7 linked regions of the Homo sapiens genome follow. The protein of the gene in region 4 interacts with the protein of the main gene of each other region in a pairwise test. Each region holds a gene or a part of one and is shown on either strand. Other genes may lie near its edges. The genes, in order: MDH1, NUFIP1, TAF1, TTC3, EXOC1, TESC and SPTAN1.

Evidence for each region.
Region 1: the proteins of TTC3 (region 4) and MDH1 interact in a two-hybrid assay, tested with the Homo sapiens proteins (one large-scale study listed by BioGRID and IntAct).
Region 2: the proteins of TTC3 (region 4) and NUFIP1 interact in a two-hybrid assay, tested with the Homo sapiens proteins (one large-scale study listed by BioGRID and IntAct).
Region 3: the proteins of TTC3 (region 4) and TAF1 interact in a two-hybrid assay, tested with the Homo sapiens proteins (one large-scale study listed by BioGRID and IntAct).
Region 5: the proteins of TTC3 (region 4) and EXOC1 interact in a two-hybrid assay, tested with the Homo sapiens proteins (one large-scale study listed by IntAct).
Region 6: the proteins of TTC3 (region 4) and TESC interact in a two-hybrid assay, tested with the Homo sapiens proteins (one large-scale study listed by IntAct).
Region 7: the proteins of TTC3 (region 4) and SPTAN1 interact in a two-hybrid assay, tested with the Homo sapiens proteins (one large-scale study listed by BioGRID and IntAct).

Annotation. Positions count from the first base shown.
Region 1 is NC_000002.12:63,602,086-63,606,094, reverse strand, and holds part of MDH1 (malate dehydrogenase, cytoplasmic), read right to left. Parts: intron 1,400-4,009; coding exon 1,223-1,399; intron 816-1,222; coding exon 702-815; intron 157-701; coding exon 67-156; intron 1-66. UniProt on the Homo sapiens protein: Catalyzes the reduction of aromatic alpha-keto acids in the presence of NADH. Plays essential roles in the malate-aspartate shuttle and the tricarboxylic acid cycle, important in mitochondrial NADH supply for oxidative phosphorylation.
Region 2 is NC_000013.11:44,979,056-44,983,064, reverse strand, and holds part of NUFIP1 (FMR1-interacting protein NUFIP1), read left to right. Parts: intron 1-910; coding exon 911-993; intron 994-2,244; coding exon 2,245-2,343; intron 2,344-3,112; coding exon 3,113-3,175; intron 3,176-3,798; coding exon 3,799-3,875; intron 3,876-4,009. UniProt on the Homo sapiens protein: Binds RNA.
Region 3 is NC_000023.11:71,383,156-71,387,164, forward strand, and holds part of TAF1 (transcription initiation factor TFIID subunit 1), read left to right. Parts: coding exon 1-9; intron 10-806; coding exon 807-980; intron 981-1,789; coding exon 1,790-1,894; intron 1,895-4,009. UniProt on the Homo sapiens protein: The TFIID basal transcription factor complex plays a major role in the initiation of RNA polymerase II (Pol II)-dependent transcription.
Region 4 is NC_000021.9:37,079,358-37,083,366, forward strand, and holds part of TTC3 (E3 ubiquitin-protein ligase TTC3), read left to right. Parts: intron 1-3,589; exon of another isoform or gene 3,590-4,009. UniProt on the Homo sapiens protein: E3 ubiquitin-protein ligase which catalyzes the formation of 'Lys-48'-polyubiquitin chains. Mediates the ubiquitination and subsequent degradation of phosphorylated Akt (AKT1, AKT2 and AKT3) in the nucleus.
Region 5 is NC_000004.12:55,902,003-55,905,981, forward strand, and holds the end of EXOC1 (exocyst complex component 1), read left to right. Parts: intron 1-341; coding exon 342-536; intron 537-2,340; coding exon 2,341-2,493; 3' UTR 2,494-3,084; downstream 3,085-3,979.
Region 6 is NC_000012.12:117,092,653-117,096,661, forward strand, and holds part of TESC (calcineurin B homologous protein 3), read right to left. Parts: intron 1,037-4,009; exon of another isoform or gene 1,022-1,036; coding exon of another isoform or gene 1,000-1,021; intron 1-999. UniProt on the Homo sapiens protein: Functions as an integral cofactor in cell pH regulation by controlling plasma membrane-type Na(+)/H(+) exchange activity. Promotes the maturation, transport, cell surface stability and exchange activity of SLC9A1/NHE1 at the plasma membrane.
Region 7 is NC_000009.12:128,628,578-128,632,586, forward strand, and holds part of SPTAN1 (spectrin alpha chain, non-erythrocytic 1), read left to right. Parts: intron 1-547; coding exon of another isoform or gene 548-610; intron 611-1,743; coding exon 1,744-1,798; intron 1,799-3,549; coding exon 3,550-3,746; intron 3,747-3,853; coding exon 3,854-3,907; intron 3,908-3,994; coding exon 3,995-4,009. UniProt on the Homo sapiens protein: Fodrin, which seems to be involved in secretion, interacts with calmodulin in a calcium-dependent manner and is thus candidate for the calcium-dependent movement of the cytoskeleton at the membrane.

The sequences.
Region 1 (4,009 bases), on a different chromosome or scaffold from region 4:
TACCATTCTTAAGAGAAACATATAACTACTTCCTCAAAGAAGGGAAATAGCTCCAAAATACCTTACCTTGATTACAACAGGGAATGAGTAGAGCAGATCATCAGGAACACCATAGGAGTTGCCATCAGAGATAACACCCATGGACACAAACTCTCCCTGAAAATAACAATGTTTCACATACTCATGATGATTAGTTTACACAACTGACACATGAACTAATAAAATTAAACCAGGTGACCCTTTCTTACTATGTTCATAACATCATTACTGTGTAAGGAACTATCATCAGCACCAGGTACTGGTGACAAGGTAACTTTCATGGATATTATTTCATTCCACGCTTCCATATCATATGTGAAGTAGGCCAGGGAAACCTAATCCTCATTTTACAGATGAGGAAGCTGTGGCATAGAAGAAAAAAATTCACCCCTACTATGTATCAGGCATTGTGCCAGGTGTTTTCCATGTGCAATCTCCTTTAACCCTCACAACCCTGTGTATAATAGTAATGTCATGTAAAAGATGACAAAACAGCTCAGAAAGGTCAAGGCTAACAAACCCCGAAGTTTACTTGTTAATAGGCAGCTGAGCTGAGAAATGAACCTAACCTGACTGACTGCTAAGGCTATATTCTTTTTATATTATATCATCAGGCAACAAAAATAAAATAGAGTGACCTGTGCAAATCACTAAATCCTTACCTCTGGGGTTCCAAACCAGATGTCCCTGACGTGGTCACAGATGGCTTTTGCAGCAGACATGGCACTGGATAGTTTTCGAGCCTTGATGACAGCAGCGCCACGCTGCTGCACAGTCTGGGAAGGGGGCAGGTGAAGGCAGCAGTATTACTTGGTCATGATAGCAAAGTTTTCATTAATTCCAAGTCGACCTTGGGGTGAAAAGCTATGACCAGAGCTTAATGTTTCCCCTCCAAAATCATGCAACAACCCAATGTCAGCCTTACCAATCCTTCTGGAAAAAGGAAACTATGTATCTCCATACAAAGTTTATCATAGGTCAGACAAAGACATGGATCTTGGTATAAATCTCAACTGCTGTCACATCAGATCACACTAGATCATGACTGGCTTACTATGATCCCGAAAGTATGCAGTCATCAGAGCAACTGTGAAAGACCTGCCCTCTTTAAGGTTTTCTGTCCTAAGAGTCTCTCAAGAGTTCTTTACGCTCAGTGTTAAGAAGGCTCACAGATTTTTCTTACCGTGACAAATTCTCCCTTGAGCCAGCTGTCATCTTTCAGAGCTTCATAAACACCAACTTCCTTTCCTTGCAATTTCACCTTGGCATGGTTGACATCTGGATACTGAGTCGAGGAATGGTTTCCCCAGATAATGACATTCTTTACATCATTAGCAGTCACACCAAGTTTAAGAGCAATCTAGTTAAATTGAAAACAAATACATTACTGAGACAAATGGTTTTTATTTCCAATTGGGACCTGTTTTGACAAATGCCCTTAAATAAAGATAAAAAGCTTCTGAAATTTCAAGAGAACACAAGAGTTATATTGACTTGTAAAAAATGTAAATTTATTGCTTGGCAATTTCCTACAACAGCTTAACAGTGGTAACAACTGTGGACTTGAAACCTTATGGAGTAGAATGTTTAAGGGTATGAAGCATCCCATAGTTTGTGGTTAACTTATTAGTACAGTAGGTGTATCAAACATAAAACATTAATCGTTACTATTATTTATCAATTTACTATTTCTTGAATATGTAAATGTGATCTTTTGTTTCACTGTTAATGTTTACTTGGAGATGTCTTCTCAGTGCTTCTGAGTAATCAGGTATTTAGGCACTTTATATTTAGGTAAAATTTTTATTATATACCATATAGAAATTAATTTTCAAATAACCCTAAATATGAAATTTTAGAGTTGGATAGGACTCAAATTACCAAGATATGACTGTCCTCATTTTATATATCAGGAAACTGAAGGAAAGAGGTTTTATATATGTGTATGTGTGTGTGTGTACACACATATATACACTCTAAAATTATAACATATGTAACAATCTCTAGCTATAACTCCAGAAAGCACTTTAGGGTCCTGCAATGCCTTGCAATCACATGTAGTACAGTAGCCACAAAAAAGGTTAGAAAGTTATGTCTTGGGCTGGGCATGGTGGCTTACGCCTGTAATCCCAGCACTTTGGGAGGCCAAGGCGGGCAGATCACCTGAGGTTGACAGTTCGAGACCAGCCTGACCAACATGGAGAAACCCTGTCTCTACTAAAAATACAAAGTTAGCCGGGCTTGGTGGCACATGTCTGTAATCCCAGCTACTTGGGAGGCTGAGGCAGGAGAATCGCTTGAACCTGGGAGGCGGAGGTTGCGGTGAGCCAAGATCGCACCACTGCACTCCAGCATGGGCGATGCAGCGAGACTGTCTCAAAAAAAAAAAAAAAAAAAAAAGAAATGTCTTGGTAGATTTAAATAAAATCAGCCTGCTTGTTATTTGTCTGATAAGTTTATGTGCAGAAAATAAATTATGATCAGGTATATGTATAATTTGTTCCTAACTAGACAACAGAATTTATGATGAACCAGAAGGGAATGTGGAAAAATATTTTAAGAAGCTGATCTGTTTTGGTGACATTGTGGGCAATTCTTCCTTCCTCTGTGTCCCAAAAAGAATGGGAGAAGAAACTAGTTGTGCCAGAGTCTGTAGCTTTAGCACACATAAATAAAGCATTTGAGTATTTACCATGTAAGAAAAGGAATACACTTTGATATTTTAAGGAAAATTTTAAAATAAGGGTAATAACAGCTCCAAACTGAAACAACTCAAATGTCGTTCAAGAATGGTTAAATATGCCAGGCGCGGTGGCTCACACCTATAATCCCAGCACTTTGGGAGGCCGAGGTGGGAGGATCAGGAGGTCGAGATGGAGACCATCATGGCCAACACGGTGAAGCCCCGTCTCTACTAAAAATACAAAAATTAGCTGGGTGTGGCAGCGTGTGCCTGTAATCCCAGCTACTCAGGAGGCTGAGGCAGGAGAATCTCTTGAACCTGGGAGGCGGAGGTTGCAGTGAGCCGAGATCGTGCCATTGCACTCCAGCCTAGGCGACAGGGCGAGACTCTGTCTCAAAAAAAAAAAAAAAAAAAAAAAAAAAAAAAAAAAAAAAAAAAGAACGGTTAAATAAACTGTATTATGTCTTACATAGGCAATGGAATAAATAAAAGGGGTAAGTGGAAAAACAACAAAAAGAAACAAACAACAACCTGGATGGATCTTAAAGGCATTAAACTGAGTGAAAAAGAGCCAGTCTCAAAAGGTTCCTTACTGCATGATTCCACTTTTGTAAATTCTCAAAATGACAAAATTATAGAGGTGGAGTGCAGAAAAATGATGTCAGGGACAGAGGGTGGTGTGACCATAAGGGAGAGTATGAAGGAGTTCTTTTGTGAGTGATGAAGAAATTCTGTACCTTGACTATGGGGGCAGTTACAGGAATCTACACTTGTAATTAAATGTCATAGAATCATTCATAAAGACACAGAAAAAAATAAGTGAATATAAAACTGGTGAAACTTCAGTAAGTCTAGTTAATAGTATTGTGTAGTTCATCAACTTCCTGGTTTTGATAATACTCTGTAGTTATGTAAGGTACCATCAATGGGTGATGGGTACATGGGCCTTCTCTGTACTATTTTTTTGCGACTTTTGAGTCTAAAATTATTTCAAAATAAAAAGCAAAAAAAAAAAAAAAAAAAAACCCCAACCAACCAACCGAAAAGGATAAAGATGAAAAAAAAGGCCATTACCTAAAATGTCTGCAATGACTCGACTGGTCTTCATACTAATTTATTCAGTTAAGTAAGAAGTAAACTGTCTTTACTTTCACTCCCACTCTTAAACTAGTTGAGACTGCTTTCTTAAATCCTAAAATAGTTAAAAGTTTACTTAAAAATTTATGTTTGTGATATTGTAAATCACTTTTGACCGATCTAATCCCTGCAAGTCTTGCAAGTATTAGG
Region 2 (4,009 bases), on a different chromosome or scaffold from region 4:
TGGGCAACATAGTGAGACCCCATCTCTATACAAAGAATAATTTTTTTAAAAGAGACAGAGACAGGGTCTTGTGCTGTTGCCTAGACTGGAGTGTAGTGGCATGATCATAGCTTACTGCAGCCTCAAACTCCTGAACTCAAGTGATCCTCCCACCTCAGCCTCCACAGTAGCTAGGACTACAGGTGCATGCCATCATGCCAAGCTAATTTTTAAATTTTTTTGTAGAGATGGGGTCATGTGAGGTTACCCAGGCTGGTCATGAACTCCTGGCCTTGAGTAGTTCTCCTGTCTCAGCCTCCCAAAGTGCTAGGATTATAGGCATGAGCCACCACGCCTGGTCCATATGCAAATTTTTGAGCCAGGTTGTGACAGGATTGGAGAATTTTTTTTTTTTTTTGGTGTCAGTATGTAAGGTTTGTTGGAAGAGGGGGCTTATGAACTGGAAGACAATATAGGAGTAATCTGGTGGAAGATCAGAATTTCTGACTTGGGGCATGGTAATAAGAATGGAAAAGTACAGTGGGATTTGAGAGGAGATATATTTCACAAGGTTCTGTTTTCCTGGTGCGAAATTGATGCTGAAGGAGCAGTGTTGGGGATTTTACTGGTTACATTTCTAATATTTGAAATAACCGAAGGAATTTCATCAGGTTAGGTTGTCCATTTCTGCACTTTGACGCCTAAAGTTTCTGTGGACATATAATCACACCAGTCTTTCTTTGTTTGAAAAATAGTCATTTGGTAGACTAATCTTAATCTTTGTTATTTTGTTTGAACTAGTATTCTTCCTAGAAGGGTAGTTTACTAGTGTTTTTACTGAAATATTTGTAACATGCTGTAGTAGATAAAATTTAATTATAATTTAAATAATTACATTGTTGCAAACATTTATGGATCTTTTTTTTTTTAGTTAAAAATTCTTATTATCCACGAAAGTATGATGCAAAATTCACAGACTTCAGCTTACCTCCCAGTAGAAAACAGAAAAAAAAGGTATTTGAAAGATGTTCTTGAATTTGACCCCTTGGTCCCTATGTTACTGTTTCATATCTTGCATTTCTGTCATAACTGTCTTCAGTGTTTTGCTTCCATTATTGACACAGTGGAGCCTTGCTATAAAAAGGAATTTTATGGTTAAACATGAATATAGCAAATTGGGATTCAAAAATAATACATAACTAAATTTTTGTTTCTTTTCTGTGGTTTTAGAAATAGATATATATTTGATACTTTTATTTTACCTTATTTTTTTTTAGATGGAGTTTCACTCTGTCGCCCAGGCTGGAGTGCAGTGGTACGATCTTGGCTCACTGCAACCTCCGCCTCCTGGGTTCAAGCAATTCTCCTGCCTCAGCCTCCCAGAGTAGCTGGGACTGCAGGTGCGCACCACCACACCTGGCTAATTTTTGTAGTTTTAGTAGAGTTGGGGTTTTACTGTGTTGGCCAGGCTGGTCTCGAACTCCTGACCTCAAGTGACCCGCCCACCTCCGCCTCCCAAAGTGCTGGGATTAAGGCGTGAGCCACCATGCCTGGCCATATAGTTGATACTTGAACAACGCAACAGTTAGAGGTGCAGTCAGAAGTTTGTGTGTAACTTTTGACTCCTCTAAAACTTAACTACTAATGGTCTACTATTGACTGGAAGTCTTACCAATAACATAAATAGTCGGTTAGTATAGAAATGAAATGGTGTCCACATATATTTTATACCTTCTTGACATACTTTTTTTTTTGATATTTCTAAGGCTATGTGGTTTATCTGTGAGTTTTTCCAAATTGTCACAAATCTCCAAAAAAATTTTCCAATATATTTACTGAAAAAAATCCTTTTATAAGTGGACCCTTGCAGTTCAAACCTGTGTTGTTCAAGGGTCAGCTGTAGTTATTTTTTTCTAAAAGATGAGCTGCTGTTTTTATTCTATTTATTTTCAGATCATTTCAACATATTCTGTACTGAGTCTTAATTAGATAACCAATTTGCAATCTGCTCATAATTTATATTAGCACTATTTGGATTAAAAAAGTTTAAAATTATGCCTGGGTTTCACTAATATATTTGTTAAAAACAAAATGAAAGAAAGAAATAGAATAATCTCTTCATTGGAAATATACTCACAAGCTTCTCCCACACGAAAGGGTTATTGGAAACATCAAAGTGTGTATTACTAGAATGATAGTTATGTTTTTATTATTGATTACAGATTTTTCACCAAAAGCCTAATTCCTCTCTGTTTTTGTTTGCAGAAAAGAAAGGAACCAGTTTTTCACTTTTTTTGTGATACCTGTGATCGTGGTTTTAAAAATCAAGAAAAGTATGACAAACACATGTCTGAACATACAAAAGTAGGTTTTCTTAGTTGTCCTGAAACTGATGTAGCAATTGTGCTTCTTCTATCTGTATATTTGGTAGAAATGCCAAGCTTGTTTTCCTTTAAAGTTTATAGTTTCTGTAGAGATATAGTTTGACAACTTGACAGATAGGGGCAGTGACCCTGGGGTTTGAAAGTGGGGATCCCGCTGCTTCAGGGACGAGGTAAGATGGTAGCAAAGAAGGGAGCTCTGACAGCTTTTTGTATGTGTGTACCTCTACTGCTTGGGAAGAGGCTGTCCTCTCCTCTAGTTACCTTGTGCATCTTAATGAGTTCTTTCCCCTTTAAGTCTGCCCTTGACCATTAAACCATACTGTGTAATGTGGCTGTGCCTATCACCCTCAAAGGCTGGTCCACACCTTGTCAGGTACTAGCTAGAAAACTTTAACCAAAATGTTTAAAAGGTTTAAAAGGAAGCCTTTGGTTTTGAAAGGTTCTTTTTCTGTTTTTGGGAATGCCCCTCAACTTTAGGAATTAAGAGCATTTCACAGGTTTATTGATGTATGCCTTTGCTCAAATGGAGAAGTAAATAAGATATATTATTGTGCCACATACTCTGAGAGTGTCATTCCTTTGCCTAAAGGCAGCCCTGTTTTGGAGTCATTTTTGTATGCAGAGATAATACTATACAGATGGGATAACTATGTAATACAGCCAGAATATGTCTGTGTATGTATAGTGGGGTAAATTTAACATGGAAAACATTTGTTAAATAGTTTTTTTTTTCTTTTAAAAACTCATAGTGCCCTGAATTAGATTGCTCTTTTACTGCACACGAGAAGATTGTCCAGTTCCATTGGAGAAATGTAAGTTCTGTTTTTTTATCCTATTTTTAAATACATGCTCTTTTTATTGATCTGTTATCTTCACAACTGTTTATTTATATACCTAATAATAGGTAACACTAATGGAGTACTTTGTAAGGATTTTGACATCATTTATTCAACTTTTTCCTCACAAACAACTATGGTTGTTTATATTGGCCCCATTTAAAATATTTTAAAAAATGAATTGCCCAAGGCCTGAGAATTGATTCTTGGACCTCAGTTTCTTGACTCCAAATTGTATACTGCTTTACTACACCATGCTGCTACAGATTGTCACGTCTACTCATATCTTTAGTGGCCTCTCTAGGTTTTGATTGGTAAGTCATTCATTTGGGTGTTTAATGTCATTTGAGAGAATGGGTGGCATATCTACTTTGTAATCAAAATTATGTTACCCCTTTTCCCTCTATTAATAGCACTAATTAAATACATGATAGATTCTTCTTCCTTTAAAGGAAAAGTTATAACACAAATAGATACAACCTGCTTACTTGGTTTTAAAATTGTGTCCAACATAAGTTTACTTGTAGAAACAAAGTCTCCAAGTTAGTCAAAAGCATATGATATTGCCTCCTGATGTTCAGCAGGCTTTTTCCCCCTAGATGCATGCTCCTGGCATGAAGAAGATCAAGTTAGACACTCCAGAGGAAATTGCACGGTGGAGGGAAGAAAGAAGGAAGTGAGTAGAGTTCAGAACTGGTGAAATAACTGTTTTACTGTGACAAGGCTTATTAATGTAGTTAAATTCATTGAATTCCCTTAGAATGTTGGAACTAGGGAAGAGGACCATAAGGCATATTATGTAAGACTATT
Region 3 (4,009 bases), on a different chromosome or scaffold from region 4:
AAGGCCAAGGTATAATTGAATTCTGGTTAGAAAACAGCTATAAAGGATATTGGGGTATAAATTAAGGGAATGTACCAGGTATTAGATTGTATTAGGGAATTGGTTATTTTCTCAGATGTGATAGAATGTTATTTTGGTTATTTAGGAGAATGTCTTTATTGTTAGGTGATGCATGTGAAAATATTTAAAGGTGAGGTGTCAGAATGACTGCATCTTTCAAAAACTGTCCAGCAAAGTCTATAGAAAGATAAAAGTTTAAAAAAATGGCGAAATATAAACAGCGACGTGGGATAATAAGTGTTCATAGTACAGTCGTCCTTCGTTATCTCTGGGAGATTGGTTCTAGGACCTTCTCTGGATACCAAAATCTTTAGATGTTCCAGTTTCTGATAAAATAGCATAATATTTGCACATAACCTATGCACATCCTCTCCTATAGTTTAAATCACCTCTAGATTACTTATAATACCTACTCCAATGTAAATGCTATGTGAATAGTTGTTAACACTGTTATTGGTTAGGGAATAATGACAAGAAAAGTCTGTACCTGTTCAGCACAGATGCACTTGTATTTTCTGAATATTTTCTATCTATGGTTGGTTGAAATCACGGATGCAGAACCCATACATGGATATGGAGGGCCGACTGTACTATTCTTTGAACTTTACAGTATGTTTGAAAATTTTGATTATGAAATTGGAAAATAGGTAAAATGTTTTTGGTGTGTTTGTCTCAGATTGAACAACGTCATTGTGTGTAGTAGTGTCCTGTCAGGAGCTAGATGGTATTTTCTTTGTTCTGGACAGATGAGAGAACAAGAGAGGCAAGCTTCAGGTGGTGGAGAGATGTTTTTTATGCGCACACCTCAGGACCTCACAGGCAAAGATGGTGATCTTATTCTTGCAGAATATAGTGAGGAAAATGGACCCTTAATGATGCAGGTTGGCATGGCAACCAAGATAAAGAACTATTATAAACGGGTGAGTCTCTGCTCAGAAAATTTTTTTCCCATACATAATTCTGCTTATGCTTCCATAAACTTTTATGTACAAACTTTTTGTTATTAACATAGCTGTAGTGAGACAAACTGCAAACTTACATACAAATTTTTTATTATTAACGTAGCTGTAGTTAGAGATCTACTGGTAATCTGTGAACATATACCATAAATTTCTTGGGAGAAAGGAGTGGTACCTTTTTTTGTAGTTATAACATGTTGAGCATCTCAAATCTCAAAATTCGAAATCAAAATCCAAAACTTTTTTTTTTTTTTTGAGACTGAATCTTGCTCTTTTGCCAGGCTGGAGTGCAGTGGCATGATCTCCACTCACTGCAACCTCCACCTCCTGGGTTTGGGCAATTCTTCTGCCTCAGCCTCCTGAGTAGCTGGACTACAGGCGTGTGCCACCACACCCAGCTAATTTTTGTATTTTTAGTAGAGACAGGGTTTCATCATGTTGGCCAGGATGGTCTCGATCTCTTAACCTCGTGATCTGCCCGTCTTGGCCTTCCAAAGTGCTGAGATACAGGTATGAGCCACCATGCCCGGCCAATCCTAAACTTTTTGAGCACTATGATGATACTCAAATGCTCATTGGAGCATTTTGGATTTCCAGATTTGGGATGCCCAACTGGTAAGTATAATGCAACTATTCCAAAATCCGAAACACTTCTGGTCACAAGCATTTTGGATGAGGGATACTCAACCTGTATTAGTAAAGTGCTATGGTCATATTGTGTAGGATTATTGATATATTCTAAATAACTGGGTCTTCTGTGTTCCTTATAGAAACCTGGAAAAGATCCTGGAGCACCAGATTGTAAATATGGGGAAACTGTTTACTGCCATACATCTCCTTTCCTGGGTTCTCTCCATCCTGGCCAATTGCTGCAAGTGAGGAATTCTTTCCTGTTTTTACTGTTAACTAAGGAAATTGATAAATGAGGAACCAGTCAGCTCAGAAAGAACTATTATAATTCTAGTTGATTGAGATGCTTTAATTTTAAGTACAAAGAAAATAAGTATAATCCAAAAATGTTTTAAAGAAATCTTTTTCTTAAAACTGGCTGTGAATTGTGTTATTCTCAGGCTAAATGTAAAATAGGTTTTTAAAAATACACACTGGTAAGCTCAGTAACATCTGGGAAGCATAAGGAAGTCAACCTAGGATGAATTTACTATAAATTTACTATAATTTATGAATATTTAATTTTTGTGTATAAAATTGATAACATTTTGATCACATTAGCTGTGGTTATTGTGAATATTGAACCACACCTGAACTGTGCCATCTACAGTCCCCAGCCATAGTGAAATGCTTTTTTTTTCCCTCCTTTGTTCTAATGGGTGTAAAGAGGCTCTCTTATAACAGCTTTTATATATTCAAGGGGGGAAGTATGATGGTCCACAAATGATGTGGAAAATCTCTAGCACTCTCCCATCTTGTTTTTTTTCTCCATTTCATTTCTCTTGGCAATCTTAACCATTTGTCCTACTCTTATACCTAGTTTATTCTACTGTTGTTGTTGTTTATTCTCCTAAAGCATCTGCAAAGCTCAGTTTTTTTCTTTATCCTTTACATTCATAGTCTATTGCTAACCGGATGTTTAGTATCATCTTTGTATTGTTCTTCTCCTTTCCCTGGAACTTTCTGTTGAGGTTTTCTACCAATTCAGCCTCTTCTTTTGTGGCTACTTTTGTAGTCTCTTAAAGATCTTTTTCTGGCCGAGCGTGGTGGCTCACGCCTGTTAATCCCAGCACTTTGGGAGGCCGAGGTGGGCGAATCACCTGAGGTCAGGAGTTCGAGACCAGTCTGACCAACATGGAGAAACTCTGCCTCTACTCAAAATACAAAATTAGCCGGGCATGGTGGCACATGCCTGTAATCCCAGCTACTCGGGAGGCCGAGGCAGGAGAATCACTTGAACCCGGGAGGTGGAGGTTGCAGTGAGCCGAGATCGCGCCATTGCACTCCAGCCTGGGCAACAAGAGCGAAACTCCATCTCAAAAAAAAAAAAAAAAGATCTTTTTCTGTATTCTTCTGTAATTCTTTTTCTGCCTATATTTCACATGTAGAATTTTCTTTCCACACTCAGTGATGGTCTTCCCTCTTTCTGTCTACTCTTCTGATTTTCGGGGAAGGCTTTCCTTAGACTCAGGCTTCTTGTGACAGTTTATCCCTATCTTGCCTCTACTTAAACTGGCTCAAATGTTTCTGTTCAGCTGTCCTCTGTCCTACTGTCTTGTGTTTTCCTTTTGTTTTTTCCCAGCCTATTCTGTCTAGCACTCTTTCTACCTCATTGGTTGTTTTATGATTTATTTGTTTGGAGATAGGGTCTGGCTCTGTGACCCAGGCTGGAGTGCAGTGGCACGATCTTGGCTCACTGCAACTTCTGCCTCCTGGGCTCAAGCCATCCTCCTACCTCAGCCTCCCAAGTAGATGGGACAATAGGCGCACGCCACCACATCCAGCTAATTATTGTATTTTCTGTAGAGATGGGGTTTTGTCATGTTGCCGAGGCTGGTCTTGAACTCCTGAGGTAAAGTGATCTACCTGCCTCGGCTTCCCAAAGTGCTGAGATTACAGGCATGAGTCACTGTGCCCGGCGTTGTTTTGTTTTTTAATTAGTTTAATAATTTATTCAACAAATGTTGCTCTCACACGTTGTGTGTTGGGCTACACTGGGGTCTAGGGTAGTAGTATAGTACTTGGTACATTATGAAGTGATTTTCATATGTAATCTTCATAGCAGTCCTGTGAGGTATAGGCATTTTTAAGTATCTCTGTTTTGTAGATGAGGAAAACTAAACTTAGACATGTTAAATAGCTTAAATAGACATGTTAAATCATAGAGGTAATGGCAGAGCTAGCATCATCTGAATTCACATCCTGTATTTTCTCCCCTACTGACTCTGAAAGATAGTGGATGAAAAATTGTTTAGTCACATTTGATAATCTATATTTTAATTTATTTGTATTACTGGATAGACCTTAGATGGCGTAATTAA
Region 4 (4,009 bases):
GGAACTTAACTATAAGGTCATTTGGATCTAATGTTTTCTTCTTGGAGGTTTAGTAGTAATTAGCAGTTGAACAGTCATAGGACTGTTCAGGTATTCTATTTCTTTTAGTCAGTTTTGGTAAGTTTTAGAAATTTGTCCTTTCATCAAGTTTATGGTATGGTTTTTTTTTTTTTTTTTTTTTTTTTTTTTTTTTTAAGATAGAGTCTCCCTCTGTTGCCCAGGCTGGAGTAGTGCAGTGGTGCCATCTCATTGCAACCTCTGCCTCCTGAGTTCAAGCGATTCTCCTGCCTCAGCCTCCTGAGTAGCTGGGATTACAGCCGTGCGCCACCATGCTTGGCTGATTTTTTTGTATTTTTAGTAGAGACGGAGTTTCACCATGTTGGCCAGGCTCTTCACAAACTCCTGACCTCAAGTGGTCTGCCCACCTCGGCCTCCCAAAGTGCTAGGATTACAGGTGTGAGCCACCGCTCGTGGTATGGCATTAATTCTCTTTTTAATCTCTGTTTTATTTGTATATGTGTTCCCCTTTTCTCATGTTGAATATTATTTATGTCTGACTTCTCTTTCTTGATCAGTCTTAGTAAAAGTTTGTCCATTTTTAAAATCTTGGCAAAGGATTAACTTTTGGCCTAATTTGTTCTATTATTTGTTTTTTATTTCATTGATCTTTTTTCTCTTTTATTATTTCATTTTACTTTCAGTTTATTATTTTACTATTTTTTTCACTTAAATTACACACTTAATATTAATTTTCAACCATTCCGATTTCCTAGTATAAGCATGCAAGACTGTAAACTTCCTCAAAGTTCATTTTTGCTTATCTAACATAGTTTAATTTATAGTGTTTTCATTAACTTTCAAATCTAAGTATTTTTACAATTTCTATTTTGATTTTTTCTTTGACTTATGAGTTACTTAGACATTTTTAAATTTTCAAATGTGTCTATATTGTTTTCCTTTAATTATCGATTTCTTACTTGTGTTGCCAGAGAATATTTTATCTTTTTAGCATTTTTTTTTTTTTGCCCTTGCTTTATGGCCTTGTACATAGTGAATTATTAGAACTGTTCTGTGTACACTTGTGAAGAGTATATATTCTGTAATTGTTAAGTGTCTATTAGGTAAAGCTTGTTATTTGTGTTGTTCTGATAGTCTTTATCCTTATTAATTTTGGTTTATCCTATCATTAACTGAGAGAAGTGTGTTGCAATATTCCACCATTACTAGTTTCTAACAGATTTCCTGTAGTTCTAACAATTTTTGTTCTTCTGTATTTTGAGACTTTTATTAGCTACATGCAAGCTTAACATTTTTTTCCTAGTGGCTCGAACCTTTACTATATTGTGATCTTCTCTAAGTTTGCTTCTTTGTCTTAGAGGCTTTTTGTCTGATCCCGTCTTTCTTTTGGTGCTAATTTACCTGGAATATTCTTTTCTTTCATTTTACTTTGATTTTTTTTAGTGTCCTTACATTTTAAGTGTCTCTTATAAGGGACATACTACTGGATTTTTCTTTTAATCTCACCAGACAACTTCTGTCTTTTAATTGGTTATGTTCCAGGTGTCTTGGTTGGTGTTTGACTCAGTTTTAGATATTAAAAAAAATCTAAAAGTATTTTTATTTTACCTTTGTTCTTGACAGATCATTTTGATGGATGTACAATTGTAGGTTGGTGTTTCTTTTCTGTCAGTAGGGTAGGAATACTATTCTGCTGTTGCTTATACAAAGTGTGCTGCCAGTTTTATTTATGCCTTTTTTTTTTTTTTTTTTTTTTTTTTTGAGGTGGAGTCTTGCTGTGTTGTTAGGCTGGAGTGCAGTGGCGCCATCTTGGCTCATTGCAACCTCCGCCTCCTGGATTCAAGCGATTCTCCTGCCTCAGACTCCCAAGTAGCTGGGACTACAGGCACCTGCCACCATGCCTGGCCAATTTTTGTATTTTTAGTAGAGATGGGGTTTCACCATGTTGGCCAGGATGGTCTTGATCTCTTGACCTCGTGATCTGTCCGCCTCAGCCTCCCAAAGTGCTGGGATTACAGGCGTGAGCCACTGCACCCAGCCTATTTATGCGTTTTTTGAAGAAAATATCATTTTTCTTTTAGTTACATTGGATTTTCTGTCTTTTGTGTTACATCATTTCACTTCTAAGTCTAGATAGAGATTATATTTATCCTATTTTGGATGCATGTGTTTCATGATTCTGCATTTTGTCTTTCATGAGATCTAGAAGTTTCTGAGCCCTGTATTCTTTAAATATTATGTCTCATTAGTCTCTTCTCTCCTGCTGGAACTTTAACTGGATATATATATACACTAAACTGTTTCCAGATCACTTATTCTTTATCTTTCATATTTTTTATCTCTTTGTTTCTCTTTACCAGAATTTACAGTGCTGGATAATTTCATAAGGCATATATTTTAGTTCACCAATTTTCTCTTCAACTGTGCCTAATATCCTCTGTAACCCATCCTGTCTCTTTTTTTTCTTTTAACAATTGCATTTTTAATTACTTTTTTTTTTTTTTTTTAAGATGGAGTCTCTCTCTGTCGCCCAGGCTGGAGTGCAGAGGCGCGATCTCAGCTCACTGCAAGCTCCGCCTCCCGGGTTCACGCCATTCTCCTGCCTCAGCCTCCCGAGTAGCTGGGACTACAGGCGCCCGCCACCACGCCCGGCTAATTTTTTTGTATTTTTAGTAGAGACGGGGTTTCACCGTGTTACCCAGGATGGTCTCGATCTCCTGACCTCGTCATCTGCTCACGTTGGCCTCCCAGAGTGCTGGGATTACAGGCATGAGCCACCATGCCCGGCCGCATTTTTAATTTCTAAAAGTTCTGCCTGGTTCTTTTTTGATATGTCCAGTCATTCTTCATGTTCTCATGTTATATGCTGATTTTTGTGACTCTATAGCTATTCTGTAGACTATATCAGACATTCCCAATGTCTGATATCCTTGAGGAGGGGGATGTCTAAATTTATTGCTTTTTTGTTTTTTTTTCTGTTGTCTCTCCTCAATGTAGCTGTCACCTCATGTGTTTGGTGATCATTGATTATGAACTTCTGTTTGATCTTTGTGGTGATCTTGAGAGTCTAATTTGAGGATGCTTGCTTTCTGAAAGCATTTCTATCAGCTTTGTCTGGGAGCCAGAAAGTTTAGCTGGCATCACTTTTGAGTTCCTACATTTTGCTTCTGGCCCAGGGCTCAGTGTCCTGATCCTATTACTGCTCTTGGCACCACTACTTGTAGCACTAAACTGTAGCCAGGTTTAATTTCTAGCTCAAGGTTTGTTGCTTTTGCGTGGAGAGGGTGCCTTCACATGTTCCCCTATTTCTATGAGCTCAGCAAAAACATCCAAAAAGTGTTTTTTTTTTTAATCTAGGATATACCTTTTTCCTCCCAACAGTACATTCCCCCAGAGTGTATAGTTGACCATAACTGATGGGATCAGAAGCTCTTTATTTTAATATTTAATTTTAGTAGTATATTTTTGTTTGATTGTATTATAAAAAATTTTATGGTACCAAGCAAGCTTTCTTGGTGATACCAACATTTCCATTAAAACTAGTTTACATCTAAGTTAAGATTTGAGTTATCCTAAAGAAAAGTATTAAGTAAATAGCAGTACAGATGGCAAATGGATTGCACAATATATCCTCTGGATCCATAGTGACCCTGCAGAGATAAACCTGTGATGGTCAAACAATGTGAAAACTGCTGTCAGAGACATGGGCAGGGTGCTCTTGTTTACAGAGAAGAGGTGCAAAAATCAACTTGATGGTAGTGGGAAGATCAGGAAATGCTTCCTGAAATTGAGTATTAAGAACTAATAGACATTAGGTGGTTGCAGAATAAGTTTTGTTTAGGAAGGACAAGCAGTTGGGTATGACTGGCTTCTAGGTTGTGTGTTGTGGAGTGACTGGGGATAAAAGCAGGAGCAAGATCACAAAAGGTCTTCTATGCTTATATTAGGGAAGTTGGACTTTATTCTCAAGCTGAAGGGAAGCTGTTGCATG
Region 5 (3,979 bases), on a different chromosome or scaffold from region 4:
TAGTACTAGAGGAATGAATAATAATTGTGGTTCAGTCATTGTGTGAAATATTATGCAGCCATTAAAATTTATATTTAGGAAAAAACAATATTAAATGTAAAGTGGGACATGAAATTTTAATCTCCTGTATGTATTCACACATCAAAAGATTACAAGGAACTCTACAATATTAACAATGTTCATCTCAGAAGTATGTTAATAAGTGATTGTTATTTTATTGTTTATACTTTCACACACTGATTTTTGCATGGTGATTATACACTACTTTGTAATCAGATTTTTTTAATGTAAATAATAATAAATGCAGGTCTTAGCCATTGTTTCTTTTCATTTCCTTGAAGCATTTCTTTGAAGGTGTTGAAGCTCGCGTGGCACAGGGCATAAGGGAGGAGGAAGTAAGTTACCAACTTGCATTTAACAAACAAGAACTTCGTAAAGTCATTAAGGAGTACCCTGGAAAGGAAGTAAAAAAAGGTCTAGATAACCTCTACAAGAAAGTTGATAAACATTTATGTGAAGAAGAGAACTTACTTCAGGTATGCTTACTTCTTTTGACCATCTGACTTAAAGATCCTTACATATATTGCTTTTCTTTAAATAATTTTCTAGAAATGCTACAGATCTAGAGCAGGAGGAGAGTTCCATTAGAGTACAGACCAGATTAATGAATTGTGAGGAAGAAAGGAATACTGTTTATATAAGCATATATGGCTATTTCTGCTTATTTCGTATTTCTGCTATATTATGGTGAGGCATTAAGTTTGTTTTTCTTTGGTTGGTTGGTTGGTTGGTTGGTTGGTTGGTTGAGTGGTTGGAATTAGAGATGGGTTCATAATCTGGCTCCAGATTAAGCTGTGTGACTTTGGGAAGTTACTTAACCTCTCTGAGCCTTAGTTTCCTTATTTGATAAGTGGAAACGATACATCTCTTGTACAGTAGCCACTGTATTGGGCAACATAGCAAGACCTTGTCTCTACTAAAAATTAAAAAAATTAGCTGGGCATGGTGGCACGTGCCTGTAGTCCCAGCTACTCGGGAAGCTGAGGCAGGAGGATCACTTGAGCCCAGGAGATTGAGGCTCCAGTGAACTATGATCCTACCACTGCACTCCAGCCTACGCAACAGAGTGAGGCCGTGTCTCAATTAAAAAAAAAAAAAAAAAGAAAGAAAGAAAGAAAAAGAAAGAAAGAGAAAGAAAGAAAATCAGCTTAGAGAGGTGGAGTAATAGGACCAAGCTCTCTTAACTAATGGGTAGTGGAGCCAGATTTAAAGTCCAAATTAGGCCATTATTCTTTATAAACCATATTGAAAGGCCCAGATATGAGTGAGAGTAATTCTGATTTCAACATCATGGAAGACTTCCTGAGGGATATTGCATTGTTTGTTTTAACCTCTGAAAGTCAGATGTACTTGAACAGGCAAAGTGGGGATGGAGGGAGTAGCATTCTAGAAAGAAATAATATGAGCTAAACGATGAAAAGTAAAAAGCATAACACTGCTTAGGGAATAGCGATTGGTCTTAAGTTGGCAGGAATTTAGGATTTATGAGATTTAGGATTTACAAGAAAAAATCTTGGAAGAATACATTCCCTCAGCTGTCAAATAGGGAAGATGATCATAATACCCACCCTCACCAGGTCATCATGAGACTTAATACTATAATATATTCATAAAGTGCTTTGTACTGTGCTGATAAAGAGTAAGCTTCAATTAATGTAATCTATTTAAGCCATTATGTCAATGTGTGTATCACATTGTGTCTTGGTAATTGTCTACATATTAGCCTCCACTGTTAGATTATAAATCACATGATTGCAGATAATGGGTCTGAGTCATTTTGCTGTCCTCCAAGGCATCAAGCAAGGTTTTGCATCAACAATTTTAGATAAAGAAAACTTTAAATGTTATAGGAAATGAAATTAAAGCATTACATTTTATGTAATCACTAGTCTTAGTTCTATACATAATTGTGCATATCCACATCTGTGTTGCATATTGGAGTATATAAGATAATAGCTAAAATGTCATGAGTGCTTACTTGTGTCAAACGCAGTTTGAAGCACTTTATGTACATTTCTTATTTAATTCTCACAGCATTATGAGGAAGGTCTTATTATTATCTTGGTTTATAGATGAGGAACTTGAGGCATAGAGCAGTGATGTCATGTACTGAAGGTTACAAATCTTGTAGGTAAAAGTGACTGGGATTCTGGTTTCAGAATGCATGTTCCTAGCTACTATACTACCCAAATTCTTAGAATATGCCTTGGCATTATTTCTGCATACTAGATTACATATTATTTCCATTCATAGCCTAATGACTTTTTTTTTTAATAATAGGTGGTGTGGCACTCCATGCAAGATGAATTTATACGCCAGTATAAGCACTTTGAAGGTTTGATAGCTCGCTGTTATCCTGGATCTGGTGTTACAATGGAATTCACTATTCAGGACATTCTGGATTATTGTTCCAGCATTGCACAGTCCCACTAAACCTTGTGAAAGAAGAAAAGATAACTGAATGAAGCATTTGAGTATAACAGACACTATACCAAAATACCAAGCAACTGTTTTGAGAACCCAGACTTAAAATTTTATGTATTATTAAATGTTAGATAAATGGGTAGTACCATACTACAAATATTTAAATGCAAAATTACCAACCTATATAGCAGTTTTATTTGCCCTATAGGTTGCATACTAACTTAAGCATTCATGTCACCATAAAATGCCTTTAGCATTTCTCAATGACTGGATGGGAAATTTTCCTTTATTGCCTAGCTGCTTGTGTTTGAGTGGTTGTCCTATGAGCAATGCATTTGGAGTTCTTCAGCTTTCACTACTTCTCTGTTGCTTGCTAATCATGTAACTACTAAAATACTGTACAAAATTGTTTTTTCACACTAACAAATGTGTATATGGAGAAGAGGGCTCATGTGATGATCATTTGTGAACTTAGATTTTTGAGGATTATGTGACTAGTAATAAATGTGAAATAAATTTTCAAAAAAGTTGACATTTGATAATATTTTTAGGTCTATCATATGCTGTCTTCTGTATTAAAGCAAGTTCTTACAAAATCCATATACAAAAATTAATTGCAAGTTTATATACCACAAAACACTTAAAAGTTTAATAATAAGTAAAGTAAGCCGGGTGCAGTGGTTCATGCCTGTAATTCCAGCACTCTAGGAGGCCAAGGAGGGAGGACTGATTGAGGCCAGGAATTTGAGACTAGTCTGGGCGACACAGTGAGACCCTGTCTCCATAGAAGAACAATTTTTTGTGGTGGCACATGCCTATAATCTAAGCCACTTGAGAAGCTGAGGCAGGAGGATTGCCCCAGCCCAAGAGTTTGAGTGAGTTGTGATTGTGCCACTGTACTCCATCCTGGGCAACATAGCAAGATATTGTCACTTGAAAAAAAAATAAGAAAAATAATAATATTGAAGATGTTTAGTATTTAGGACTAACTCTAACAAAAGATGTGCTATATCCTGAATTGTGGCCCTACTAACATTTTATGTTGATGCCCTAACCCCCCATGTGGCTGTATTGGAGATAGGGTCTTTAAGGAGACGATTAAGTTTAAATGAGGTCAGAAGAGTAGGAACCCTGATCCAATAGACTCAATGCCCTTGTAAGAAGAGGAAGAGACAGCAGAGCTCACTCTCCCTCTGCTGTGGGAGGGCACAATGAGAAGGCAGCTGTCTGCAAACCAGGAAGAGAGCCCTCACCAGAACCTGACCATGCTGGCACCATGATCTCAGACTTCCAGCCTCCAAAACTGAGAAAATAGTTTGGCAGCCCAAGCTAATACAAGATGTATAAGACATTTATGGAGAAATTAGAACTACTGAAAGATATTAAAGAAAACCAAAATAAGTGAAGAAGTATTTAATGTTTCCAGATAAGAACACATATACTAAAGTAGAAATGGCAGTCCTTTTTGTTTTGTTTTGTTTTGTTTGTTTTTTTT
Region 6 (4,009 bases), on a different chromosome or scaffold from region 4:
TCATTCCTCCTCTGCTGAGGAGCCACTGTCTGAGGAGGGAGCCTGAGGTGGGAGGATCACTTGAGCCTTGGAGTTAGAGGCTGCAGTGAACTGTGATTGCACCACTATGCTCCAGCCTGGGCAACAGAGCAGGGCCATCTCAAAAACAAATTAATTTTAAACAATCAATAAAAGTAATTGTTTGAATCATTTTCTTACTGAGGCATGATTTCCATACAATGGAAAACACTTCACTGTTCAGAGACCCTAACAAGGGCAGAGGGCCCTCCCCAGAGGCACTCAGACAATTCCACATCCTATTTCATGGGGTTCATGGACTCCCTGAAGATGCCAGGGGAAAAGCCACAACCTAGCCCAGAGGAAGAGAAAAGGCACGGGGGACTGGCTGGTTGGCTGTTCAGCTTACCAAGCTTTGGCGGACGACAGAACAGTGTGGAGCTGGCTGGTCCACCCTGGCCCATCAGACCCTTCCTCCCGCTATGCTACAGTTGTTGGGGTGCTCCCCTGTCCCCCTGGAACCCCTGAGCTTCTGGAGGGCAGGGACCGCATCTGGTCCACCCTGGTAGCAGAATATGGCAATTGGTGAATGAGCCGAGGCCACCGTCTGAGGCCACTTAAAGACTTTAGAACCAAGAAGTATTACCCAGGGGCGAGAACGCAGTGGAGAAACCAGCGCCACCCCCACCAGCCACGCTTGGCTACGCCAGTCCTCCCTGCCATCTCTAGCTCCTTCTCCAAATGAGATTAGACCAGGAATGGAATCCGACTCTCTTTTTTTCTTTGGAGACAGTCTCGCACTGTCACCCAAGCTGGAGTGCAGTGGCACCAACTCCTGGGCTCAGGCGAACCCCCTGCCTTGGCCTCCCAAAGTGCTGGGATTACAAGCATGAGCCACCGCACCAGCCTGCGACTCTACTTCTCATTATGATGCCTGTGGCCTTGGGCAGGCACCTCCTCTCTTGAGCCTCAATGTCTGCATCTGTAAAATGGGAAACCAACCGTGTTCCTGGGAGGATTCCATCAGCTACTGCGGATACGCTGCCTGGCTCAGCTGAACGTGTGGCAGATGCCACGCGCCCGAGAAACATTAGCTCTTACCATCATGAGGTCTGAACTCTAGGTCTGGAGATTTTTTTTTTTTTTTTCCTTTTCCTTCTGGCAGCTTCTTGGCATCAACATAGACATGCCTGAAGAGCTGTTTTGGAGCCTGAAGGAAAAAACAGACCCTCCACCTTTCCCAGAATCCTCTGTCTTATTATTTCCTTTCCAACTCCAGGAGCAGACACGGATGGGGGGGACAGGAAGTGGGGCCAGCTCAAGGTGGTGAAGGACAACTGACTCAGGTGAATAATTCCCAAGAAGCCCTTCTCTCCGTCAGGTCCCACTTTGTACCTCGGTCCACACACCAGACACCACTTGGCTGCTGTCACCACGGGTGCGTGGGGAAGGTGAGCTCAATCACACCCCCGGGACGCCTTCGCTCGGGCTTTTCATATGAATCTTAACAATCTAGATGTGAGCCTTCTTGGCTCAGAAAAGATTCCTGGGAATACTCGTTTCCGGTTTAAATCAATCAATGAGACTCTAACAGGCAGGGAGAAGGAAGGTGGGCACGCAGACCTGATGATGCCCTGTGTGGCAAGCTGCTGCTCAGGCATATTTTTGGTGGGGCTGGGGAGATGCTGGGAGGGTTGGCAGCCGAGGACAGCTGGTGAGGGTGGCACTGGGTTTTCCAGTGGCTGCCTGTTCCTGAACAATACACCTTGAGTTTTAAAGTCCCCAGGGACTGTGCCCCTTTAACGTGAGCCTCTTATGCTCTCACTGAACCACCAAGTGCATACAAAGGTGAACAAGACACGTTCTTTCTGCTCTAGGGAGCTCCAAGTTTCGAAGGGGTGGCAGGTGACAGAGTTGACAAGTATAACATGGTGTGATGCCTGCTATTGCGGGCTCCAGGAGCGCTGAGGATGGGTGTTTAACCCTTAAAGGTCGGATGGAGAGATGGCTTTCTGGATGGGAGCAGCAGGTAAGCCAACCCCTGAACAATAATGAGCATTCGTTTCATAAAGAGACAGGGTTAACGCTGTGCGCGGTGGCTCACACCTGTAATCCCAGCACTTTGGGAGGCAGAGGCAGGCGGATCACTTAAGGTCAGGAGTTTCAGACCAGCCTGGCCGACATGGTGAAACCCTGTCTCTACTAAAAATACAAAAATTAGCCGAGCATGGTGGCGGGCACCTGTAATCCCAGCTACTCACGAGGCTGAGGCAGGAGAATTGCTTGAACCCAGGAGGCAGAGGTTTCAGTGAGCTGAGATCGCGCCACTGCACTCCAGCTTGGGCAACAAGAGTGAAAATTCATCTCAAAAAAAAAAAAAAAGAGAGAGAGACAAGGTTAAGAGGAAAGGTTTGAGTTTGTTTTTTCTTGTTTTTGTTTTTTGTGAGATGGAGTTCACTCTGTCGCCCAGGCTGGAGTACAGTGGCATGCTCTCAGCTCACCGCAACCTCCGCCACCCAGGTTCAAGCGATTCTCCGACCTCAGCCTCCCGAGTAGCTGGGATTACAGGCGTCTGCCACCGCGCACAGCTAATTTTTGTAGTTTTAGTAGAGACAGGGTTTCACTATCTTGGCCAGGCTGGTCTTGAACTCCTGACCTCATGATCTACCTGCCTTGGCCTCCCAAAGTGCTGGGATTATAGGCGTGAGCCACCACGCCCGGCCTAGACCTTACCCTGGGTGGAGACAGAGAAAGGCTCCCGTACGTAAACACCTGATTGTACACATCAAATGAAAACAGTGCTCCAGGCAGAGGAACAGCTTTTGTGCAAAGGCCTGAAGGTGAGAAAAAATACGGGAGTCTTTTCCTATCCCTTCTTGGTTCCTAGAAATTCAAGTGGCAGCTACACACAGTGAAAGCATGCTGGCAGTAAGAAAGCAGTCTTGGGGCCAGGCATGGTGGCTCATGCCTGTAACTCCAGCGCTTTCAAGAGGCTGAAGTGGGAGGATCACTTTGAGGCCAGGAATTTGAGACTAGTCTGATCAACATGGCAAGACCCCTGTCTCTACAGAAAAATTTAAAATTAGCTGGTGTGGTGGCGCACACCTGCAGTCATAGCTACTGGGAAGGCTGAGGTGGGAGGATCGCTGGAGCCCAGGAGTTCGAGGTTGCAGTGAGCTTGATCATGCCCCTTGCACTCCAGCCTGGGTGAGAGAGCAAGACCCTGCCTCAAAAACTAAAAATTAAAAAAAACTGTAAAAAAAGAAAGTAGGCTTGGGGATCCCATGATCTCCAACTCCTCCACTTAGCAGCTGTGGGACTGCAGGCAAGCTGGTTTACCTCTCTAAGCCTCAGTTTCCTCACCTGTAAAATGGCCCTAACACTGCCTTCCTGGGGGATCATTACTATAAAGAGTGTTATGCAGAGAGCACCAGCGTGGAGCCTGATGCTCAGCAGGTGCTTGGGGAATTATGTTCATTATCACCAGCCTCAGCCTGACCTTCTGGTCCTTTCTGGATGGTGTTCTCAGAAAGGGACCAAGCTGATTCCTCCCCAGAAAGTCAGGGGTCATCTTGGTCCTCAGGGAGGCGGGGGAGTCAGCAGCCCTGTGGGCTCAGTCTGTCCTCTGGCCACCTTACCCTGAGGCTTTTCTCCCTTTTTCTCAGGGAAGATTCCCAAGGGAATGGCCTTGGAGGAAGGGCCCTGCCTGACCCACTGGGTCTCTGGGAGCTGACGTTCCCATGCCAAGCCGATCGTCTCGCACGTAACCTTATCAAATCCACACAATGACTTCAGGATCCAGGTGGGGGTACTGAGGCTCAGAGAAGTAAGATGACTTGCCCAAGGTCATGTAGCTCAGAGAGGTGGGACCAAGACTCAACTCTCAGCTATGGCTCGGAGCGACCAGGACATACAAGAGTGTTTAAAGCATGGTCAATAACAAACCATGTACATGTGTTTGGTCTAACTACTTCATGTATATTAACTCAATCCTTCCCAACAACTTCAAGGG
Region 7 (4,009 bases), on a different chromosome or scaffold from region 4:
ACTTCTCTGCTTGGCCTGGGGCCTCTGCCTGGCCGGGTCACCTTTGTAATCTGCCAAGCCTGCTGTGAAAGCCAGGGCTGCTGGGACTGGAGTGGCTTGGCCTGCACTCCTGAGGCTCTGCACCCAGGCACATCAAGCCTGTATAGGCGGCCAGGGGAGAAATAGACCCATCCAGCCGGGCCACACATTCTGATGGCAGAGCAGCTGGGGACGTAGGGATCGCAGTTTCCGGCCTGTGCCCGTAGGACACCCTGGCCACCTGACTCCCCTCCCTGCCCCATGCCTGTGTCTGCTGGTCTTGCTCTTGTCTCCGTGAGGTGCCACGCTCCCCTCACCTTATGGCTCCTCCCAAGCCCTGCCCATCTTGCCCATTCCTAGTGTGAGCTGCCTGGGGTGAACCACTGGGCCTGCTGCCTCCAGGTACCCGCCGGGCACCAGGTTGCCCTTGCCTGCGCCCTGCCAGCTTGGGCTTTGTGTGTGTCTGTTGCAGTGTGCTCTTGCCTCCCCTCCCTTTGGTGTATTCATTTGGTTTCTTTTCTTTGAATAGCATAGCATATCGTCGGGTCATTCGTGTCTATCAGTATGAAGTTGGGGATGATCTGTCTGGAAGGTTTTTCTCCTTATTTCTCTTCTTACCTCACTGTGGCTTTACTGATGCACTCTTGACATCCCCAGGCGGCTCCACCCTGACTAACCTGCCGCCCTCGGCTGCTTGGGAAGGAGGGGTCTGTCCTCCCACTGCACCGGCACCCAGCCTCCTGCCCCCAGGTCCTGGGGGGCATTTTCCCCGGGGGGACATGGCGTGACTGTGAGTCTGACCTGCTGGGGTAGGAGGAAGCCTGGTGCCTTGCCTTGCTAGAGCACTTTGAACCTGGGGAGATTGCAGAGCTAACCCTGGCTCGCCGGGTTTTAAAAGGGTAGGTTGGGGTGAATGTGGGTACAGGGGAGCCTGGGCTAAAACCCCACCAAGGCCACACGCACCGTGTGATTCGTCCCTGCACGTAACCCTAACTCGTTTGTTGTCTTTGTTTACTGGTAGCCTCTGTGACCTGGCACTGTGTTCTCTTGGGAAGGAGGCTCCCCAGAGCCCATCTGCTCTCAGAACTTGGTCCTAGAGAGGAGGCTCCCTCCCTGGCTGTGTCTAGAGGATGGAACCGGGATCTGGGGTTTAGTCACAGCCATCTCTCTCCTTTTGGCACAGTTGGTCGTGATCTCCCAGCACTCCACTTGTGTCCTTTGTCTGCAGGGTCGTGCTCTCATTCCCCCTAGAATGGGGCTCCCTCCCTCAGGAACCTTGCCGGGACACTCCAGGGTTTCTGTGGGGAGGCTGTCAGGTTCTCAGCCTCCCCTCTGCCCTGAGGTCTCCTGTCTGTCAGGTGTCAGGGTGTGCCATCCCCCACATGGCTGCAGAGAGGATGCTCAGACAGGCCTGCAGCCACCCTGCACCCATGGGGGAATTTAAACTCCATTCCTGAGTCATCCTGGCCTTGGGAGCAAGACGAGTGGGCTCAGCCCTGGCCCACACCAAGGCAGCAGCTTCCCATCTCTAAAACGGGAGAAATGCTCCCTGCCATCCCTCGATCCCTGGGGCCCATTAGGTAAAGATGGCCAGTTGCAGTTAGGTTTGGTTTCCTTAAAAGGAATGTGAGGTTGCCAGGCATTGCTCTCTCTGAGAGAAGGTTCATTCTGAGCTCTCGGCCAGCTGGGAGCAGGCCCCTTTCCTCACTGTCCTTCCACGTTTAGGTCCTGTATGGTGGAAGAGTCGGGGACCCTCGAATCCCAGCTTGAAGCTACCAAAGTAAGTGCCCGTGGGGCTCTGGCCCAGCAGAGACCCTTCACCCAGCCACCCCCCAGGGTACCCCTTCCCTTCCTGGCTTAAAGTCAGGAACCAGATGTGCTATTATTGTACCCTTTTCCCTTGGCCTAAAGCAGTCTAGGGCTCTTCACTATCTCTCTCTCTTTTCTTTCTTTCTTCATGGAATCTCTCTCTCGCCCAGGCTGGAGTGCAGTGGTGCGATATTGGCTCACTGCAACCTCCACCTCCCAGGTCAAGCAATTCTCCTGCCTCAGCCTCCCAAATAGCTGTACTACAGATGTGTGCCACCACATTTGGCTAATTTTTGTTTATTTTTAATTATCTTTTGAGATGGAGTTTCACTCTTGTTGCCCAGGCTGGAGTGCAATGGACGTGGTCTTGGCTCACTGCAACCTCCACCTCCTGGGTTCAAGTGATCCTCCTGCCTCAACCTCCCAAGTAGCTGGGATTACAGGCGCCCACCACCACACCTGGGTAATTTTTGTATTTTTAGTAGAGACAGGGTTTCACCATGTTGGCCAGGCAGGCTGGTCTCGAACTCCTGACCTCGGCTGATCTGCCCGCCTCGGCCTCCCAAAGTGCTGGGATTACAAGCGTGAGCCACCACATCTGGCCTAGTTTTTATATTTTTAGTAGAGACAGTGTTTTGCCTTGTTGGCCAGGCCGGTCTGGAACTCCTGATCTCCAGTGATCTGTCCACCTCAGCCTCCCAAAGTGCTGGGATTACAAGCATGAGCCACCACTCCCGGCCGAGGGCTCTTCACTTTAAAGAAAGTCTTTGGGGCTGGGTGTGGTGACTTACACCTGTAATCCCAGCACTTTGGGAAGCCGAGGCGGGTGGATTGCTTGAAGTCAGGAGTTCGAGACCAGCCTGGCCAACATGGGGAAACCCCATCTCTACTAAAAATACAAAATATTAGCTGGGTGTGGTGGCAGGCACCTGTAATCCCAGCTACTCAGGAGGCTGAGGCAGGAGAATCACTTGATTCTGGGATGCGGAGGTTGCAGTGACCCGAGATCAGGCCATTGCACTCCAGCCTGGGTGACAAGAGCAAAACTCCCTCTGAAAAAAATTACTTGGGCATGGTGGCCTACACCTGCTCAAAGTCCAGCATGGGCAATATATAGCAAGACCTTGTCTTAAAAATAAGGCTGGGTGCAGTGGCTCATGCCTATAATCCCAGAACTTTGGGAGGCCAAGACAGGCAGATCACTTGAGCCTAGGAATTCAAGACCAGCCTGGTCAATGCAGTGAAACATCGCCTCTACTAAAAATACAAAAATTAGGCAGGTGTGGTGATGGGCACCTGTTAGTTCCAGCTACTCAGGAGATTGAGGCAGGAGAATCACTTGAACCCGGGAGGTTGCAGTGAGCGTGATTGCGCCACTGCACTCTAGCCTAGGCGACAGTGAGACTCCATCTCAAAAAAATTTATAAAAATCTTTGGCCACTGCTTCCTGGAGTCCTCGCCGTACTTGTCCTTGGCGTGCACTGCCCTCTGGCAGGTCTACCAGCTGCTTTGGAACCCTCACATTGAAAGTCTCTCCCTCTATTGAGGTGGTTGGGATTTCTTCAGCTTCACCCCATCCCACTATTCCTATTCTAGAATGTTCTTGTTTTACGAGGTCTCAGGCCAGGCCTGGAGCAGGAACCAGAGGGCAGTAAGTGGCTCCTGGGCTGGTGACTGAGCTGAGGGCCCCCGTCTGAGCATCTGTGCTCCCCACCCCTGCAGCGCAAGCACCAGGAAATCCGAGCCATGAGAAGTCAGCTCAAAAAGATCGAGGACCTGGGGGCCGCCATGGAGGAGGCCCTCATCCTGGACAACAAGTACACGGAGCACAGCACCGTGGGCCTCGCCCAGCAGTGGGACCAGCTGGACCAGCTGGGCATGCGCATGCAGCACAACCTGGAGCAGCAGATCCAGGCCAGGTACCCGGGAGGGCTGTGGGCCAGGCTCAGCCCAGAGCAGGGGGAGGAAAAGACACAGTCACCTGCTGTGTGGAGGGTCTGTTCCCTAATTTCTGTTTTTCTTCCAGGAACACAACAGGTGTGACTGAGGAGGCCCTCAAAGAATTCAGCATGATGTTTAAGTGAGTTCAGCCTTACTCGCCCTGGCTGGGTGGGGGGTGTTCGGCAGCAGGGCTGCCTGCTGAGCCGCCCTCGGCTTTGTGCTGCAGACACTTTGACAAGGA